Homo sapiens: one gene and its partner. The protein of the gene in region 2 interacts with the protein of the main gene of each other region in a biochemical or structural test. Each region holds a gene or a part of one and is shown on either strand. Other genes may lie near its edges.

Region 1 (12,219 bases), on a different chromosome or scaffold from region 2:
CGAATCTTGGCTTTAAAATATCATTTCCTGTGGCTGGGGGTGGTGGCTCATGCCTGTAATCCCAGCACTTTGGGAGGCCAAGGTGGGCAGATCACCTGAGGTCAGGAGTTCGAGACCAGTCTGGCCAACATGATGAAACCGTCTCTACTAAAAATACAAAAATCAGCTGGGTGTGGTGACGGGTGCCTGTAATCCCAGCTACTTGGGAGGCTGAGGCACCAGAATCACTTAAACCCAGGAGGCAGAGGTTTCAGTGAGCCAAGACCGCGTCATTGCACTCCAGCCTGGGTGACAAGAGTGAGACTCCATCTCAAAATAAAAAACCATTTCCTGGCTGGGTGCAGTAGCTCATGCCTGTAATTCCAGCACTTTGGGAGACCGAGGCAGGTGGATCACTTGGTCAGTTTGAGACAGACTGACCAACATGGCGAAACCCTATCTCTACTAAAAACACAAAAAAATTACCCAGGGCTGGTGGCACATGCCTGTAATCCCAGCTACTACGGAGGCTGAGGCACAAGAATTACTTGAATCTGGGAGGCAGAGGTTGCAGTGAACCAAGATCGCACCACTGCACTCTACCTGGGCGACTGAGTGAGACTCTGTCTCTAAAATAAAATAAAATAACATTTCCTACTAAAAGAAACCAGGGATCCTTGGAGAAATGGCTGATTCCAAGGCTGGGGCAGAGACAACAGATGACAGGATGTTCCAAGGTAATCAAACTATCAAAGAATGAAGTAATTGAAAAATGAGGGGACATGTAAAAAAAATACGCAGATCTCAGCAACCACATCCAGTCACTCCACTCAGCCCTTACCAAGTATTTTCTGCATGTCAAGGAGTTTAAACACTTTACTGATATTTAACTCCATATTTAATCTTTGTAACCACTGTGAAGTACTATTAACAATGAGGAAACTCAGGCATGGAAAGTAATGCAACCAGGAATCATGAGCATATATTATTTTTCACTTGTTCTAAGTGTAAAATTTTAGCAAATTCAGAGCTGTGCCACAATCTAACTTTCAAACATTTCCATAATTCCCAAAAGAAATGTCAGGCCCATTTGTAGTTACTCTGCGCTCCACTGTGCAACCACTACTTTCTGTCTCTATGGATGTGTCTTTTCTGAACATTTCATACAAATGGAATTACACAATATATGGTGTTTTTGTTTAGTTTCTTTCACTTAGCACAATCTTTTTAAGGTTTACTGCAATAGGTATCAGAATTTCATTCCTTCTTATTGTCAAATAGTATTCCGTGGTATAGCTATACTATACTTTATTCATTTACCAGCTGATATATATCTGGGTTTCTTACATTTTTTTGGCTACTGTGAATAACGCAGCTATGAACATTCATGTACAAGTTTTTGCGTGAACATACATTTTCATTTCTCTTGAGTAGACAGATACCTGGCAGTATAACTCCTGGGTCATATAATTCATTTATGTTTAACTTCTTAAGAAACTGTCAAACCAGGAGGGGCGCTGTGGCTCACAGTTATAATCCCAACACTTTGGGAGGCCAAGCCAGGGGACTGCTTGAAGACAAGAGTTCAAGATGAGCCTGGACACATAGACACGTAGGGTCCATCTCTATGAAAAAATTTTTATAAGCCAGGCGTGGTGGCTCATGCCTGTAATCCCAGCACTTTGGGAGGCCAAGGTGGGCAGATCACCAGAGGTTGGGAGTTCAAGACCAGCCTGACCAACATGGAGAAACCGTCTCTACTAAAAATACAAAAAATTAGCCGGGCGTGGTGGCGCATGCCTGTAATCCCAGCTACACGGGAGGCTGAGGCAGGAGAATCACTAGAACCCAGGAGGTGGAGGTTGCAGTGAGCCAGGATCACGCCATTGCACTCCAGCCTGGGCAACAAGAGTGAAACTCCGTCTCAAAAAAAAAATTTTTTATAAAAATTAGCCAGGCTTGGGTGGTGCACACCTGTGGTCTCCTAGCTACCTGGCAGGCTGAGGCAGAAGGACTGCCTGAGCCCAGGGGTTGGAGGCAGCAGTGAGCTATGACCATGCCGTGGCACTACAGCCTGGGTGATAGAGTGAGACCTTCCTTGTCTCTTTAAAAAAGAAAGAAAGAAAAAAAAGGGGTGAGGGGAGGAAATGAAAGAAGAGAAGGAAGGAAAGAAAATAAAAAAGACAGAAAAGAAAATTGCCAAACTGTTTTCCAAAATAGTTATATCACTTTACATTCCCACCAGCAATATACAAGTGTTTTTTTCCACATCCTCACCAATATTTGCTATTGTTTATTATTCTTACAGGCAAAAAAGTAAAAAATATTTTTAAGAGGCTAAAACTATATATACTTATTACTTTTTGCCCCACCGTCTTTCCTTTTTATATAAAATTCTGTCACCTTTCAAACATCTACACCTTCCATGACATAAATCAAAACTGAATAAAATCTGAATATGTTCAATAAATGCAGAAAACCATACATTTGCATAAATAACTGCTCTTACATAAAATTTTACTTCAAATTTAAAATGAAAGATTATATATACACACACAGTATGTACATAACATCACTTAGAAATGGCATACATACCTAATTTTAGTTCAATTGCTGTGTTGGTGTTACATTTGTACTCTGCCAGTTTCTTCTCCACTGCACTCTTATATTCTACCAAAAATTTCTCCATAGCACCAAATCCTAAGAGAAAAGGTTTTTAAAAGGTTTAGTTTGGAAGTGACTTAAATTGTCAAACCTGCAATAGGGTTATTATAAGTGGAATAGGGGTATGATTTAAAACATGCTGATAGATCATAAAAGCACAAGTCATTCTCCACATACTCTTAAATAAATGTATTAAGAATGCCAGCTGGGCACGGTGGCTCACGCCTGTAATCCCAGCACTCTGGGAGGCTGAGGTGGGTGGATCACAAGGTCAGGAGTTCGAGGTCAGCCTCGCCAAGATGGTGAAACCCGTCTCTACTAAAAATACAAAAATTAGCCGGGCACGGTGACGGGCGCCTGTAATCCCAGCTACTTGGGAGGCTGAGGCAGGAGAATCTCTTGAACCCAGGAGGCAGAGGGTGCAGTGAGCCGAGATCATGCCACTGCCCTCTAGCCTGGGCGACAGAGCAAGACTCCATCTCAAAAAAAAAAAAAAAAAAAAAGAATGCCTCATTACAAAACAGAAAAAGAAATCACTTTTGAGATACAGGCTTATAAACTAGGAATACTTAATATAAATGAATAAACCTGAAAATTAACATGATAGATTACTAACATTTCTGAACATGTACTAATACAAATTACCTGCTAGGATTTATACCTAAGTCGTCTTTTTCATTATAAGATGTAAAAAGCAAAATGAGAATGTCCTCTGATAATTATGACAGAATTTCATTTTAAGTATTGGAAAAAGTCTACCAGAGTGCTTCAGATAAGGAAATGATAATGCATGGAATGTCTCAAGAAGAATACACAAATATCTGGTAACCATAGTTACCATGGGTAAAGAAAGAAGGAAGAGGAACAGGGGCACAAAGAAAACATCTTTCCACTGTATTAAATATTTAAAAATCATGTATGCCTAAAGTCATAAACTGTGAGCTACTGGCACAATAGTTTTACTACATAGTGGCTACTCAATAATATACATAATAAATAACATTGGAAGATATCACTATCAAGAGAAACTTTCAAGATAACAAATCTCCTGACAAAATGGGCATATGATTAGTAAAAATGGGCTGGGCGCGGTGGCTCACGCCTGTAATTTCAGCACTTTGGGAGGCCGAGGCAGGGGGATCGCGAGGTCGAGACGGATATCATCCTGGCCAACATGGTGAAACCCCATCTCCACTAAAAATACAAAAATTAGCTGGACGTGGTGGCGCGTGACTGTAGTCCTAGCTACTCCGGAGGCTGAGGCAGAATTGCTTGAATCCAGAAGGCAAAGGTTGCCGAGATCGCGCCACTGCACTCCAGCCTGGTGACAGAGCGAGACTCAGTCTCCAAAAAAAAAAAAAATCAGTAAAAATTCAGACAGAAAAAAGCCATAAGCAAAAAATAAAAAGGGGTACAATGATGTGCTATAAACTTCAAAAAGGGGTTAAAACACACACACAGAAAATGGGAAAGACTTGAAGCAGTACAGATTAATAGTCTGGAGTGAGAATTCCTGGATTCTGACTATTTCACACACTTACTGAGCTAGTAAGCTCAGGGAACTAGAGCACATTACTTAACCCCTCTGACCCTAATCTACAGAACCGAGATTACAGAATTTACTTCGAGGAATGTAAGCAACAAAATTTAACCTGTGAAATCATATATTAGCTCAATCTGCACAATTCTATAAGTAGGTATTACATCAACCCCATTTTACATTCAAAAGTTCAGGCTTAGAAAGAGGTTTAGTTGAAGGGCATCCAACTACTAAATGATGGGCCCAAAATTCGAATTTAGATGTAATTCTTAGAGTACGTCCTCCCTCTTCTGTGGTACTTCAAGATCCTACAATCTCCATCTGGTAGAAAAGTCCTTCTTTAAACATCTGTAGAGCTCACACAACAGCTTGTCTATCCCACATATTCATAAAAATGGAATGGTTAATGTAGAGAGACTATGAGGAATGCCCTGTAAAGAGATGATAAAAGCAACAAAGGCCAGCGAAGTGGCTCAATCCTGTCATTCCAACACTTTGGGAAGCTGAGGCGAGAGGATGGCTTGAGGCCAAGAGTTCCAGACCGGCCTGAGGCAATACAGCCAGACTCTGTCTCTAAAAGGTTAAAAAAAATTGTTTTTTTTTAGCCGAATGTTGTGGCGCATGCCTGTAGTCCTAGCTACTCGGGAGGCTGAGGCAAGAGGATCGCTTGAGCCTACGAGGAGTTGGAAGCTGCCCGGAACTATGATCGCTGCACTCCAGCCTGGGCGACAGAGAGACCCTGTCTCAGGAAAAAGAAACTGTCCATAACTTCAAAAGATAAGTAATCGAAAAAAATAATCACACCAAAACAGCCTTAATACACGTACAAAGTAATAGCAATTATACATTATTAAATGTTGTAACTTGAAGGGTCTCTAGAATGTACACAAGAGAATTGTATTATAGTAGTCCAACCCTAAAAGAGAAGGGAGCAGTTCAGGAACAAAGTCTTTCTCAAAGGGCATCTAAATACGATCCTCGGAATACTAAAGTGTGACAGATTAACGAGACGACTACGAAGTCAGTCGAGATCCAAGTGGGAGCGCCAGAGCAGGGCAAGGCAGCAATGCGCTAGCTCAGAAGTTGACTGTAGTGGAAGGTAGACGGAGACCTGGAAGAGGAGGAGGATCTGAGCATTAAAATCAGCTGGCGGGAACAGGACCAGATGTACAAGAGCTGAAGCAAGCAGCAGTGGACAAAAGGAATGGGAAGAGAAACAGGCCCCAAGGCATGTGGCATTTTACGAGCCCAAATCATGACGCTTTTCCCTGGCGTCTTCGGCCCTCGGTAGGGGCCGGATTGCTGGCAGAAGGCGCAGAACCCCAAGCAGTTGGGGGCGGGGGCGCGGACCGCCGCCAACAAGGAGCTGCTGGGCTGAGAGTTCCGCGCTTCCGGTCCCAAGCAGGCCTTCTGGAACCCAGGCTACAGCCCGAAAGTTCTAGGCGGGCATTGTCACCACCGTCTCGGCGTTCTATCCCCGATCTGGCCGCCTCCTCCCCTTGGTAAACTTTTCCCGGTAACTTACCCGCCATTTCCGAGCTACGATCACCCGCGGCTGAGGAAGGACGAATCAACCCGCGCGCTCCCGGGCCGGAAGTGACCGCACAGTCTGACATATTTTCCCCGCCCACTCCCAGCGTGACGTTAGCCAATTAAAGGAGGCGTGTCCAGGAGCCCGGCGGCGGAAGCGCCTCAAGAGGCGGGGCTAACGCCGAGAAGTCTGCGCGGGCCGTTGCCTAGCCACTGCGAATGCCGTCAGCCGCTTTGCAGGCCTGAAGTGGAGAAGGAGGCCGCAAACGGACTTTCGCGGTTGAGATGCTCTCTGGCCCTAGGAAAGTTTCTCTGGGGTTGATTTGATCAATACAGACACTTTACGCCTGTTTTCCATACCCGTCCCTGAGATGTTTTGGAGACTGGCTGAAAATCTTTCCTCTTGGCCTGGACAGTGCATCCAAACACCTGAGCCCTGTGGGCAATTTTACCATTTTACCTAGGTAAAATGTAGAGGTTGAGTTTCAGTTGCGGGAGAAGCTTTCACTTGTTTTCCTCATTTGTTTCTCATTTTGCTGTAAACTTTAACACCTTTTTTCCTTTCTCCCCTGTTTTTAACGTATACAGTATGATATTTAGGTACTCTGCTTTCACTCTGCAGGTTACTAAGAACCGTTTAGCGCGCAAAAATCGTTACCTAGGCCGGGCGCGGTGGCTCACGCCTATAATCCCAGCACTTTGGGAGGCCGAGGCGGGTAGATTGCCTGAGCTCAGGAGTTCGAGACCAGTGTAGCCAACATAGTGAAACCCCGTCTCTACTAAAAATACAAAAATTAGCCAGGCATGGTGGCAGGCGCCTGTAATCCCAGCTACTCGGGAGGCTGAGGCAGGAGAATCGCTTGAACCCTGGAGGCGAAAGTTGCAGTGAGCCGAGATTGCGCCACTACACTCCAGCCTGGGCAACAGAGTGAGACTCCGTCTCAAAAAAAAAAAAAAATTGTTACCTAATAAATACCTCAAGTAGCCTGATGTAGTCTTGCATGCCACATGTCCTAGTGGTTTGAATTACATCACAAGGTGCTACCTGATTTTAGCCATAGGCCTTGTTAGTATTTAGTAGCTGTAGGAACTGCTTTCCCCAGAGGATAAACCACTATTTAGGTATCCACAAATATTCCCACAATGTTGGCTATACACCAGAATTCCTTATCTCAACAAATATTTGTTAACAGGTTTTACAGTGATGCACGCTAAAGCTAAAATGGACCCTTGGGATGATGGTCTAGAACTAACACGCCCTCTCATTTTAGAGATGAGGAAACCAAAGCCCAGAAAAGATAAACTGCCCAAGTTCATTCTCAGTATGCAACCTATGCAGAGTGCAGTTCATCAGATACTCAGCCCAGTATTTATTTGCTCAACTATATAGAGATGGCTTTCCTGAAGATAAAGATCAGAAAAGGTACTGAGAATGCCCAGATCCTTTTTCTTTCTTTTTTTTTTTTTTTTTTTTAGACGGAGTTTCACTCTTGTTGCCCAGGCTGGAGTGCAATGGCACAATCTCAGCTCACCACAGCCTCCGCCTCCCGGGTTCAAGCGATTCTTCTGCCTCAGCCTCCTGAGTCGCTGGGATTACAGGCATGCGCCACCACACCCAGCAATTTTGTATTTTTGTAGAGACGGGGTTTCTCCATGTTGGTTAGGCTGATCTCGAACTCCCAACCTCAGATGATCTGCCCATCTCGGCCTCCAAAAGTGCTGGGATTACAGTCGTGATCCCAAGAAAAGGTTTCAAGATCCTTTTTCTTGAAACCTAATGATACACAAGAAATTACAGTCATAGGCCGGGCGTGGTGGCTCACGCCTGTAATCCCAGCACTTTGTGATGCCGAGGCGGGCGGATCACGAGATCAGGAGATCCAGACCATCCTGACTAACATGGTGAAACCCTGTCTCTACTAAAAATACAAAAAAAGTAGCCGGGCGTGGTAGCGGGTGCCTGCAGTCCCAGCTACTCAGGAGGCTGAGGCAGGAGAATGGCGTGAACCTGGAAGGCGGAGCTTGCAGTGAGCCGAGATCCCGCCACTGCACTCCAGCCTGGGCAAGAGCGAGACCCCGTCTCAAAAAAAAAAAAAGAAATTACAGTCATAATGTTAAGACAGAAAACTGAAATCAATGAGACTAATGACATTATGGATCAAAAAAGGAAAACAATCTTTTTCTTTAATAATCATTTTTGGCTAGGCACGGTGGCTCACACCTGTAATCCCAGCACTTGGGAGGCCAAGGCAGGCAGATCACCTGAGGTCAGGAGTTTGAGACCAGCCTGGCCAACATGGTAAAACCCTGTCTCTACTAAAAAGTACAATAAATTAACCAGGCGTGGTGACATGAGCCTGTAATCTCAACTACTTGGGAGGCTGAGGCAGTAGAATCGCTTGAACCCAGGAGGCGGAGGTTGCAGTGAGCTGAGATAGTGCCACTGCACTCCAGCCTGCTCAAGAGAGCGAGACTCCATCTCAAAAAAAAAAAAAAACTTTTCTTTTCAAAATGGCAAGACTTATCATTTCTTTCCAAAATCACCTTATCTATGGATCAATTGCTGACCAGCAATTATGATCTTTATAAGTAAGAAATCAAGAAGAATTACGTTTTAACTGTGGTATATCACAGATTATTAGTCCTGTGATATTATGGTTAGTTGTAGGAAAAAAATATGATGAAACTTACTGATATATTGTATGACTAGCATTTAATGTGATTTGCTTGCAGAATTGAGGTTTTATATTGTCCTCGTCTTAGATGTTCACTTTTTTTTTTTTTTTTTTTTTTGAGACAGGGTCTCACTCTCACCCAGGCTGGATTGCAATGATGCAATCATAGCTCACTACAGCCTCCAGCCTCCAACTGCTGGGCTCAAAAGATCCTCCTGCCTCTCAGCCTCCCAAATAGCCAGGACTACAAATGTGTGCCATTGTGCACAGCTAATTTTTTTGTTTTTTGTAGAAATGGAGTCTCAGTATGTTGCCCAGGCTGGTCCCAAACTCCTGGCCTCAAGCAATCCTCTCAGCTTGGCCTCCCGGAATGCTAGGATAATAGGTGTGAGCCACCATGTCCATCCTCACATTTTTTTTTTTTAATGTTACAGAATAGATGTTTTGGTACAGTTTACCTAAAAGATAAAAGAATGACTTATTTTGGAAAGGTAATGTGAAAATTACCCAAAAGGAAAAAAATTCTCTTTTTTTTTGTAGGGATTTCTTTCCTTTTTTAACTTATATTTTACTTTGTTCTAAAGAGAATTTAAGAAAGCAACTATTACAATCATGGAATAAAATTTCTATGAAAGGAATATGCTATCCTCATATATATATGGAAGAGACAACATATCTTGTGGGAAGTTTACTGCCCTACTAGTCCCAGTTCTACTACTTCATGCTTGTTCAACCTTGTTGCATCTATTAAGTGGAGATAATAGTACTGCCCAGTCACCACACTGGGTTGCTGTAAAAACTAAACGGAATAATATTTGTGAACGACCTTTGTAAACTCTAAAACTCTATGCAGGTATGAAGTGGTATTACTATGATAACATTTATTCTAGTAAGGGAGATTTGGAAAAGGCATTTTCTTCAGAGAAAAGGGCCATATTACACTATTAGGTATGAACTGGCAACCATGTGTTGGTACAGGCTCAAGTTCATATGGACTGATAAACTTCACTATCTTGCTTTGAAACCTCCAGAATGGATTAAAATTTGGCACAAAAAAATATGGTCATCGGGCCGGGCGCAGTGGCTCATGCCTGTAATCCCAGCACTTTGGGAGGCCGAGGCAGGCAGATCACGAGGTTAGGAGATCGACAGCATCCTGGCTAACACGGTGAAACCCCGTCTCTACTAAAAACACAAAAAATTAGCCAGGCGTGGTGGCGGGCGCCTGTAGTCCCAGCTACTTGGGAGGCTGAGGCAGGAGAATGGCATGCACCCAGGAGGCGGAGCTTGCAGTGAGCCGAGATCATGCCACTGTACTCCAGCCTGGGAGACAGACTCCGTCTCAAAATATATATATATATATATGGTCATCAGAAAATTGATGCAGGAAATCAATTTTAAGAAAAATGCATGTATGTAATGTGTCTTCATTTCAAAATGCATACCTTTACACAGACAAATAACAGTAGTTAGTTAGCTCATTTTTTTAGCTCGTAGTGCTAATGAGCATAAAGTTATGAGTCTCAGTTCCCAGAGCAATTATCCAGAAACCATTATCCAGCTAGATGACTTCCAAATGGGATACAAGAAAGAAAATAGGCTGGGCGCGGTGGCTCACGTCTGTGATCCCAGCACTTTGGGAGGCCGAGGCAGGCAAATCACATGAAGTCAGGAGTTCGAGACCAGCCTGGCCAACATGGTGAAACTCCATCTCTACTGAAAATACAAAAATTAACCGGGTGTGGTGGCATACACCCGTAATTCCAGCTACTCAGGAGGCTGAGGCAGGAGAATTGCTTGAGCCCGGGAGACGGAGGTTGCAGTGAGCCGAGATCCCGCCATTGCACTCCAGCCTGGGCGACAGAGCGAGTCTGTCTCAAGAAAAAAAAAAAAAGGAAAGAAAGAAAATAAAAATGGACCGGCTCATGTTGAAAACTACTGTAAGAGGACCCCTATCCTAAATACACAAAAATTACCAACAGTCTTTATTTTCCAACTCTAATGTACTACCCATACGTGTATAAATTAGTAACTTTTGAGGGGCAATTTAGAAATTTTAACACATTTTTACAAATGTAACAAAATTTTCAATTTGTGTATCCTTTGAGGCAACAACAGTTCCACTTTTAAGCATTTGTACTGCAAAACTATTTCACAGAAATGCAAAGATACACTAAAACAAAGATGTTCAATGCTGTATTATTTTCACTGGCAAGTTGAAAATAGCCTAAACTACTAGCACAAGGGGCTGGCTAATATGTTCTATCTCCTATACAATAGGCTAAAAAATAAATTACAAAAAATATAATGTTATTTCATTTATATAAAAATATATTTTGATATAAACAGAAAACATCTGAAAGCATACCTCACAAACTTAACTATAGTTGCCTTTAGGGGGAATTTAGAGATGGGGATTAATGAGGTTTTTTGTTTTTGTTTTTGTTTTGGAGACAGAGTCTGCCCAGGCTGGAGTGTAGTGGCATGATCTCGGCTCACTGCAATCTCCACCTCCTAGGTTCAAGCAATTCTCCTGCCTTAGCCTCCCGAGTAGCTGGGGCTACAGTGAGCATCCGCCACCACACCCAGCTAATTTTTGTAATTTTAGGGTTTCACCATGTTGGCCAGGCTGTTCTGGAACTCCTGACCTCAAGTGATCTGCCTCCTTGGCCTCCCAAAGTGCTGGGATTATAGGCGTGAGCCACCGCGCCCAGCCTAATGAGTTTTTTTATTCTTTAATACCATTTGTCTCTTTCAATGATGATGTATTGGTTTCTTTCACAGTTAGAAACTTATCCATCTGGCTGCGCGTGGTGGCTCACACCTATAATCCCAGCACTTTGGGAGGCCAAGGTGGGCAGATCGCCTGAGGTCCGGAGTTGGAGACCAGCTTGACCAACATGGAGAAATCCCGTCTCAAAGAAAAATACAGAATTAGCCGGGTGTGGTGGTGCATGCCTGTAATCCCAGCTACTCGGGAGGCTGAGGCAGGAGAATCACTTGAACCCGGGAGGCAGAGGTTGCGGTGAGCCAAGATCACGCCATTGCACTCCAGCCTGGGTAACTAGAGCAAAATTCCGTCTCAAAAAAAAAAAAAAAAGAGAAACTTATCCATCTTTTTGGAGGTTTTTAGACATGGTTGCTAACTCCCTATCCTCTTCTCTACATTCGACGTATTATGGTACACAGACTCTAAGGGAAGCAATTTAATCAAAACTAGGAACAATTAGTTGAAAACTAATATTTTCCATTTTGCATTTTGTCATTATTTACAAGCAAAGATTGGCCAAAATAACAAGCACTATAATTATTTATACCTGTTTTCAAAATGACTGTCCAGTGATGCCTGCTTTACTTTTGGAAACTAATTTATTAGAATGGCATTAATTATGTATTTGTCTACTTTTGGTAGGTAATACAATAATAACTGTGATATTATACATTCTATCATTAAAATGCTATTTTAAGTATTATTATTATTATTTTTTTTTTTTTTGAGACGGAGTCTCACTCTGTCGCCTCTGTCCCAAAGTGCTGGGATTACAGGTGTGAGCCACCGCACCAGGCCATTGTCTTTCTTTTAATGTAAAAAAACACATAACATATAACTTACCATGTTAACTATTTTTAAGTTTATAGTTCAGTAATATTAAGAATATATTCACCTTGTTGTGAAATCTGTCATTTTAATAGGTTGGTTTTCAGTCAACTCCTTTGTAACCTATTTACCTATATCACTATGTACAGCAGGAGTTTTAACTTCCCATGATGTGGACACACAAAGTAACAAGGTTTATACCAACTGTATAATGGTGCTAGTTCAGTGTTTAG
Region 2 (9,419 bases):
TGCTAAACTGAGGATGGAACCCCAGAAATATCTGTGCTGGGTTCTGCTAACTTTTCTGCTCAAACTCAACAGTTCGATGTCATCTATTCCCCAGTTTCCGCCTATTTAAAGTGACATATACTAAACTACTCATGTATTTTTGTATTTAAGCAATTTTAAAGCACAAGGTATTTAAGGGTGACCCTTGCAAATATGTGCAGCATGTAAGTGCCCAGGGACATTCAAGTGGAAGGAATCTAAGGCTTCTAACACATTTTCAAATGGTTATGTGACCCAAAGTGGCTAAGAATCACTGCCTCAGGGAAGCCCACCTGGCCCAGATACCACTCCCTGCTTTTGCTTTCCTCTCTGGACAGCCGGGACTTGCCAATCTTAGCCTGCCTGAGCCCCTGGGGTTTCTCTGATATCGTCCTCAGTTCTTGCCTCAGGATGCTGCCACAGACCCAGCATGGTCCAGAAGCTAGGATGCCAGAGTCCCTAACATTGCTGGCCCCACACTCCAGGCTACAATGTCCAGTCCCCAAACCGCAGCCAGAAAATAACAGAGGGGGAAACTGAGGCCTAGCTAGGGCAAAGTCAGGGTGAACAGACAGTAATAGAACCTGGAAGTACTACCAACTCACAGTGGCCCTGACACTTCCTACTTCCCACCCCCAACCTGGGTGGCACAAGGCCTGGAAAGCACTCACTGCCCAGCAGTAACCACGAAATGGTGCCACTTCAGACCACTTAGATAGACTCAAAACCTCACTCTCCAGCCCTTTAAACATTCCTCCCCAATCAGCACTCACTTCTGCTGGGAAGCCAGGGCAAAGGTATCCTGCTTCTCCCGTGAAATGCCAAACCGCTCAGCCACATTCTCAGAGGTTATCCTAGAACACAAACAGCAGATAGTGTGGGCATTGGTCTGACAGCCTAGAGGAAGGGACCAGGCTGTAGAGCTGTGCTTGGAACTTTGGGTTCCCAAGGCTGTAGGCAGGACAGGATGTAAGGGCCAGTCCATGCCACAGACAGTAGTGATGACTCAGGATATGGTACAGCCTGCCCTGAAAGTGGATATAAAGGCACAGATAGGGAAGTCAGCAATGCTGGCCAGATCCTGAGAAGCTCATACACCAAAGAGACTTTCTTCAAGAGAGGGCAGCCTGCATGGGGGCAGTTGCAGAAAGGAGTTTGTTCCCTGGGTGAGCTGCCTCAGCGCAGGGTAGAAAAGGAGCAGGGGAGGGCCTGGGTGGGGGCACTAGTTGGCTACTCCTGGCCAGCTTCTCCTATGCCTCAAGGAAGACTGCTGCAATGTAGGGAGATGAGGACTCCCAAATCTCCTCTGGAAAGGCCAAACCTAAGCTTCCTGGTCACCTTGGCTGGGGTCTATGCTTATCCTGAGAACCTAGAGCCACAGCTAGGCCTTCCAGCCTGGGCTTCTGGCTTTATAGGCTTCCCTTGGAGATACAGTATGTGAAAGAAGCCATGGCACTGCCCCTCTCCAAGCCTCAGTCTCCTCATATGTCTAGTGGATCCAGGACTCCTGGCCCAAAGACCCTGGGGATGGCCCAGAGGCTCAGAGAAGCTAAAGTGTTCCATACAAATGCCACATACTTTTCTTTTTTTCTTTTTTGAGACAGAGTCTCCCTCTGTCACCCAGGCTGGAGTGCAGTGGCACGATCTCAGCTCACTGCAACCTCTGCCTCCTGGGTTCATGCCATTTTCCTGCCTCAGCCTCCCAAGTAGCTGGGACTACAGGCGCTCACCACCGCGCCCGGCTAATTTTTTGTATTTTCAGTAGAGACAGGGTTTCACTGTGTTAGCCAGGATGGTCTCGATCTCCTGACCTTGTGATCCACCCATCTCGGCCTCCCAAAGTGCTGGGATTACAGGCATGAGCCATCGCACCCGGCCAAATGCCACATACTTTTCTTGTTGCACCTGACAGGGCCCAATTCCCCTCACCAGCATGTTCTGTCGTCACAAGCTTCCCACTGCCTTCTCAACTTTCTAGGCCCCCAAGGCTTTGGAGTGGAGCTACCATTGTCCTTCCTATGACTGAGCACCTCAGTGTGGGAGTGACAAGGTGGGCGATGTTTGGAAACTCGGGGGCACAGAGAGGACCTGGGGCCTTCAGGAAATGGAAGTCAAGGGCAACATCAAGTCTCATCCCCAAAGTCCCTGCGGAGCAGACCATGCCCAAAGGAAGGAGGCCAAGGCTTGGCACCACCAGCCACAGAGATGATAAAAGTTCCTTGGCTCCCTGCCCCAGGCAGAGAGGGCACAAGCACACAGAGCTATGGGAGCACTCACCCCATAGGAATCAGGCAATCTCTGGCCTTCTCCTTCTCCATCAAGCGCGAAGTAATATTTCCAGGGTTCCCTCTGTCAGCCAGGGACATGGACTCCACCCTGGGGAGGAGGAAGAGGAGGAGAAGGTAAGGTGAACTGGGCCCTAGCAGGACTCCTCCAGAGATAGCTGAACACTTGGCAAGTGCTAGGAAATAGCCAGGGAGCCCTAGGAAGACCAGTGGGCCTCTGGGAGTCACAGGCAGGGCACTTGGCCAGCAAGGCCCAGCCACGAGTACTGAGCCCTGTCTCTATTTCGACCCCCACCCCAGGACAGAGCACTGCACAATAAACACTCCTGGGGGCAGGGCTATGCTTCCCTATACACTGCTAAATCAGCCAACTGGCAATTCCAGAGAAAAGCCTTCTGCTGTCAGCCACAGAGGAGGAAACACATCCACAAGCCAGGGCCTGCCCTCAGGGCCCACAAATTCAGAAGGGAGAAGAGACAATTTGAAAGTAACCACAGGCCGGCTGTGGTGGCTCACGCCTGTAATCCCAGCACTTTGGGAGGCCAAGGCGGGCAGATCATGAGGCTAACATGGTGAAACCCCGCCTCTACTAAAAATACAAAACATTAGCCGGGCATGGTGGCAGGCGCCAGGGTGGGAGGCTGAGGCAGGAGAATGGCGTAAACCCAGGAGGCGGAACTTGCAGTGAGATGAGATCGTGTCACTGCACTCCAGCCTGGGCGACAGAGCGAGACTCTGTCTCAAAAACATAAATAAATAAAATAAAAATAAAAGTAACCACAAAGCTGAGCTCAAAGGGCATTCAGACCTGCATAGACAAGGAAGTGCTACGAGCTGAGAGGAAGGAGACGGCAGTGTAGTGTGGTCAAAAAAGGGCTTTGAGGCCATGGGGGACCCTAACACCTCAAGGGATGATAACAGATAACCTTGACTGAGTGCTTTTCACGTGCCCAGCACTATTCTGAATTCTTTTGAGATATTAGAGTGCTTCAGTGTCAGTCACATGACAGACAAATACTCCACAGTGTAAACTGTTGCTATTACTCCATTTATTCTTCTCAACTTCAACAGAGCTGAGCTAGGTATCCCCATTTTATAGATCAGGAGACTGAGGTCTAGAGAGACTGTATAACTTATCCATGGTGACCCAGCCTGGATCCACATTTAGGTAGTCTGGTCCCAGAGCCCACTTCCAACTAGAGTGCCCTGTGTTAAATACTTGCTGATCAAAGTCTATGGAGAACAGTCAGCCTGTGATGTGGGTGTCAGGCCTGGCCCAGATCTTAATATCCTAGTACCATCATCCTTAACCTGCTTGGGAATCAGATACTCTCTAAGAAACTCATAAAAGCTCCAGCCCTTCTCAAGTTATCCATGCCACCTCTCACCCAGTAAGATAGAAGAGCATGAGAGAAATCAAACGGCAGTGGCCTTTGCCCAGCCAAAGTCCTTGCAGAGTGGTCTTTGGCTTTATTTACAACTGTAGACATAGGTCATTACAACTCAGTGACAGCTGCCACAGCCCTGGGACAGGGGCCAGCAATGCGTCCTCTCAAGAAATACCCTAAAGAGGATGTGAAAGGCAGCGGAGGCATGTCAGAACCCTGGGGCTGCTCACCTCCCCCAGCCTGCCAAAGACCTTACTCCCCTGCCCTCCCAGCACCAGATGCCCACCCAAGCCTGGGCACCTGTGCCCTGACCTTCCCTGGAGGCACTGCCAAATACAACTTCTGCAGCTCCATTTGCTGCAGCCAATGATGGAGCCACAGTCTAGGTGAAGGTGACAGTGACCAAACCACCACAGATCTAATTATGTCCCTCATAGCCCATAAGCAGCTGGAAGTTTCCACACTGGTTCCAAGGTGGGGAGACAAAGGGACAGACAGCCTAGTAAAATGAACAAACTAGTTATACAGTAGGCGCTGTCCCTGGCTTTAGGGAACCCAAACTGCAACTTCTCTCTCAGCAGCATCATGAATCAACAAGGGCCCCCAAAGGAAACCCAAATGCTGGATTTTCTCAAAATGTTTTCCCACCTTTTCCAGCCTGAAAGATTTCCAAGAAAGTAAGCTTTTAGAGGCCAATTCCCCTCCCCTGCTAGTGCTGAGAGGTGTGAGTGATTCCTGAGCAGCCAGAGTTGGTAGCCACTCTTAACCTGCATTTGTGAGAACCCACTCGTGGCCAGCTGCCTAAAGGGGATGGGGGGAATCCTGAAATCATGGCCTCTGAGAACTCAGATGAAAATTAGTTTTATTGTCACAAGTTGGTTAATAAGCTCCGGCAGAAAAAAATTCTTACCCACAGGCCATGCCAATGTCATAAGACCCATTTCTGATGCCACCTGTAACAAAAGCATTTCATAAACATCCTTTGCCAGAGTCCACCTGTTCTGGAAGCAGTGGAGCCTCTTCCCCACCTGGTCTCTAGATGGGACTCAGCCCCAGCCTCAGAAATGGAAGACCCAGGAGTGTTCAGAAAAGGCTTTGGGCAGTGGTAGGGGGCGCTCCTGCACTCTTTCTGTGGTTAGAGTCCTCAGAAATGGTAATTATTGCTTGCCCGGCAGACAGCGACTTTGCTGACCCAAACCCACAGGTCCAGGACCAAGGCACCCACCCAGTCATAACTTACCTGCTATGCTGGCCACTGCCTGTAGCCCCGACGAACACTGTCTATTGACAGTGGACAAAGGCACAGTCTCCGGGATGTCACTGAAACAGAAGGTGAGAAAGTAGAATCAGCCCCCAATTCCATGCCAGGCTCTCATGGAAAGCAGTCCTATGCTTCTAACTGCCCCCCTCAAGGGATGTAAAGGGCAGGGGAACAAACCCAGCAGCTCTGCTCCCATGCCAGGCCAGATCCATGGAATGGGGGTGAGCAGCTACTGGGCAGACCCCATCTCTGCAGGCACTTGCTCCCCAGGGCCCCACAAGCACATTCCCTTCTACTCCTATGAGAATCTTCAATCAAAGACCAAGCACAGCCCAAAGGCAAGGGAAGCCTGTTTGGGCCACAGGGATCCTTCTCTCTCTCTCCCTTTGAAGATTCAGAAATGAAAACTGTGTATCTCTGTTTCCCCCAAAAAACAGAGAAAAGGAACTGCTGCTGGGACAGAGCACCAGAGCAAAAGAAATGCCTAAAGTCTGAGGCCAGGGACCACTCGGCCTTACCAGTAATCATATAGCTAACCCTGCATGTTCCCATGGACTCTTGAAAGCCTGATCCCACCTAGACGAAGCACTCTGATGGGCATCATATATTCTAACATCCATTGCTCTGGTAGGTTCCCCAAGACTCTCATACTGGTCTTAGCCCTGGAAGCTAGTAGGGCTTCCCCTCCTGATGTAACCTGCCTTGGCCAACAGTACAAAGCCCTAGGGAAATTTCCAGACCTCCTCAGACCCACAGACTCAGAATCTGAGGGAGTGGAAGCATCCTGGTGATTCTGGTGTGTAGCCAGAGTTGGGAACCTCTGAACTAGTGCCCAGGCCAGGCTCTGCAGAGACTCTCTCAGGGGGATAGCCTCCTGTGCAGCCTGTTTGACCCTTCCAGGGTCCCTTAACTCCCTAGCAGGTAGTTACCATTCCTTCACTCAATCCACCAAGTGTTCACTAAATACCTACTTACCACAAGGCATCACCTGAGGGATGCTGCGATGCTTATAACACTGTGCCCTAGAGGATGCCCAACCAACACACAGAAAATGAATCAACTATCAGAGACTGAAATAATAGGGCAAGAGGGCAAACCACATCACAAGGAAGTATATGGCTACTGCTGGAGAGGAAGGGGCTCTCAATTTCAGCCTGAGAGCCTGGATAACTCATGCCAAAATGGTGAGACTGTGTTTAGGCAGGGTTTGTCTTTCTGTCTAGGGCAGAAAGAGGAGGTAGGGCTAGCACTTCAAGGAGACAGAATGACCATATCAGGGAAGACAGTAGGCCCACAGCCGGCTGAACGAAGAAAAGTCAAGGTGAGTAAGCAGCTAGGAGATGAGGCTGGAAGGTAAGTCTGGAGCCAGATTGTAGGGGGCCTTGAACTACAGGCTGGGCAGTCTAAACCTCTCCCAGTTCCTAGAGGGTTGTTTTCCTGTTCCTTCACTAGCTAATGTTCCTATTTATTTATTTATGCATCTAGAAGTACAAAGCCAAGCAGTTCTTAAATCTACACATGAAAATAATTTAAGCACTCTTTACCCTGCAGGCGCTTAAAGGAAAGTTGACCAGGTCTCCTCCTGAGGGTCCTCCTTCCCCATGGTTCTGCCCTATCCCAAAGTCTCTGCTAGTGGGATATGACTGGAGTTCTCAGCTCAACTAGTAAAAAGGCTGAAAGTCACTTTTCAGCATTCTTACTTGATTACTCACCTGACAAATGAGGACAGAGTCCACACTCACAAAAGGCAAATGACAACCTGGCTTTGGCTAAAAATCAAGCTACAGAGAACTTCTGCTCCAGTCCCAAAGGTTTTGTGTATCGTGGCTCAGCACTTCAAAGTAGGGGAGAGGTTGAGTCCACAAGAGCAGGGAGCCAAGGACTCTCGTTGCCTCATTCTGGTGTCCAACCTTATCCTCCCCAACCTGCACACTGAGTTTCCTGGGGCCTGGGCCCAGTAAAGTGTCAAAATGGCCAACCCATGGCTAGAACTAGAAAAGTTTACCTCAGAAACTGGGCGATTCGGGCCATGATTGCCCCGGCCCCAGGCTGCAGCACATTTCCTGTGGACAACAAACTTTCATTCAGTGCCAGGCGGTGGTGTTCTGGGCACTAAAGTATAGCTGTGAAAACCAGAGATGAGGCATTCCAGATCTTTCTTCGGGACACTAGCCCTTGGCAGGCTCACTTGCAACTCTGGAACATCAGGGTTTGGGGCAGGGAGAGCCAGCCATACAACAGCTTGTCCTGGTCATCCACCAGCTCCTGTCCCTGAGGGTCCCACGCTCACTTGCCCATGCACCCAGCTTTTCCAAATCAGCACAGATGGGCAGGTTGTCTGCCCTTAAAAGTGAAATGGGAGTTTCTGAAAATGCACATCTCCCCAGGTATCCTCCTGTGAGCCCTGCTGTCACCCCAGAGAGGTGGAACAGTGATTGCCGACCTAGGGGTGGCATCCGCTGGATAAGACTCTTGCCATATCATATTGCTGTATTTCAAGGTGAGGGGTGGAATAGAGGGCTGGACTGAAGATTGTGGGGAAAAGAAAGATCAGATTGTTACCGTGTGTATGTAGAAAAGGAAGACATAAGAAACTCCATGTTGATCTGTACAAAGAAAAATTGTTTCTGCTTTGAGATGCTGTTAATCTGTAACTTTAGCCCCAACTCTGTGCTCACAAAAACATGTGCTATATTGAATCAAGGTTTAAGGGATTTAGGGCTGTGCAGGATGTGCCTTGTCAACATATGTTTGCAGACAGTATGCTTGGTAAAAGTCATCGTCATTCTCCATTCTCTATTAACCAGGGACATGATGCACTGTGGAAAGCCGCAGGGACCTCTGCCCAAGAAAGCCTGGGTATTTGTCCAAGGTTTCCCCCCACTGAGACAGCCTGAGATATGGCCTCGTGGGAAGGGAAAGACCTTACTGTCCCCCAGCCCGACACCTGTAAAGGGTCTGTGCTGAGGAGGATTAGTAAAAGAGGAAGGCCTCTATTTCCCGCACATCCCTGGGAACGGAATGTCTCGGTGTAAAGCCGACTATTGGTTCTATTTACTGAGATAGGAGAAAACCGCCCTGTGGCTGGAAGCGAAATATGCTGGCAGCAATACTGCTCTGTTACTCTTTGCTACACTGAGATGTCTGGGTAAAGAGAAACAAAAATCTAGCCTACATGCACATCTCAGCACAGTACCTTCCCTTGAACTTATTTATGATGCAGATTCCTTTACTCACATGTTTTCCTGCTGACCTTCTCCCCACCATCACCCTGTTCACCCCGTTTTGCCTGAAGAGGGCCTGCCCCTCCACACCTGTGGGTATTTCTCGCAAGGTGGAGACGAGAAACTGAGAAAAGAAATGACACAGAGACAAAGTATAGAGGAAGAAAAGTGGGCCCAGGGGACTGGTGCTCAGCAATTGAGGACCTACACCAGCACTGGTCTCTGAGTTCCCTCAGTATTTATTGATCACTATCTCTACTATCTTGGCAAGAGGGATGTGGCATTATATACCATTACTATAAGGTAATGGTGGGGAGGGGGTCAACAGGAAAAAATGTGAGCAAAGGACTCAGTGTCATAAGTAAGTTTAAGGAAAGGTGCTGTGCCTGGATGTGCACATAGGCCAGATTTATGTTTGACTTTACACAAACATCTCAGTGCAGTAAAGAGCAGTATTGCCGCCAGCATGTCTCACCTGCAGCCATAAGGCGGTTTTCTCCTATCTCAGTAAATAGAATGTATGGTTGGGTTTTACACCCAAGACATTCCATTCCCAGGGACAAGCAGGAGACAGATGCTTTCCTCTTATCTCAACTGCAAAGAGGCCTTCCTCTTTTACTAATACTCCTCAGCACCGACCCTTTACGGGTGTCTGCAAAGAGGCCTTCCTCTTTTACTAATACTCCTCAGCACAGACCCTTTACGGGTGTCGGGCTGGGGGACTGTAAGGTCTTTCCCTTCCCACTAGGCCATATCTCAGACAATCTCAGTGGGGGGAAACCTGGACAATACCCAGGCTTTCTTGGGCAGAGGTCCCTGCGGCCTTTCGCAGTGCACTGTGTACCTGGTTAATCGAGAATGGAGAATGGCGATGACTTTTACCAAGCATACTGCCTGCAAACAAATGGTTAACAAGCCACATCCTGCACAGCCCTAAATCCCTCAAACCTTGATTCAATACAGCACATGTTTCTGTGAGCACAGGGTTGGGGCTAAGGCTACAGATTAACAGCATCTCAAGGCAGAAAAATTTTTCTTAGTACAGATCAAAATGGAGTTTCTTCTGTCTTCCTTTTCTACACAGACACAGTAACAGTCTGATCTCTCTTCCTTTCCCCCACACTGCCGCACTCCCCTTGCCGAGATAGTGAAAATAGTAATCAATAAATACTGAGGGAACTCGGAGACCGATGCCGGTCACCTGGGCCCACTCTACACTTTGTCTCTGCGTCTTATTTCTTTT

The links.
Region 1: of the proteins of ACAA1 (region 2) and HAT1, one has a biochemical effect on the other in vitro, tested with the Homo sapiens proteins (one study listed by BioGRID).

What each region holds. Positions count from the first base shown.
Region 1 is NC_000002.12:171,915,997-171,928,215, reverse strand, and holds the start of HAT1 (histone acetyltransferase type B catalytic subunit), read right to left. Parts: upstream 5,756-12,219; 5' UTR 5,716-5,755; coding exon 5,709-5,715; intron 5,295-5,708; exon of another isoform or gene 5,099-5,294; intron 2,680-5,098; coding exon 2,575-2,679; intron 1-2,574. UniProt on the Homo sapiens protein: Histone acetyltransferase that plays a role in different biological processes including cell cycle progression, glucose metabolism, histone production or DNA damage repair. Coordinates histone production and acetylation via H4 promoter binding.
Region 2 is NC_000003.12:38,126,995-38,136,413, forward strand, and holds part of ACAA1 (3-ketoacyl-CoA thiolase, peroxisomal), read right to left. Parts: intron 7,016-9,419; coding exon 6,958-7,015; intron 6,898-6,957; exon of another isoform or gene 6,497-6,897; intron 5,012-6,496; coding exon 4,932-5,011; intron 4,645-4,931; coding exon 4,602-4,644; intron 2,395-4,601; coding exon 2,296-2,394; intron 873-2,295; coding exon 792-872; intron 1-791. UniProt on the Homo sapiens protein: Responsible for the thiolytic cleavage of straight chain 3-keto fatty acyl-CoAs (3-oxoacyl-CoAs). Plays an important role in fatty acid peroxisomal beta-oxidation. Catalyzes the cleavage of short, medium, long, and very long straight chain 3-oxoacyl-CoAs.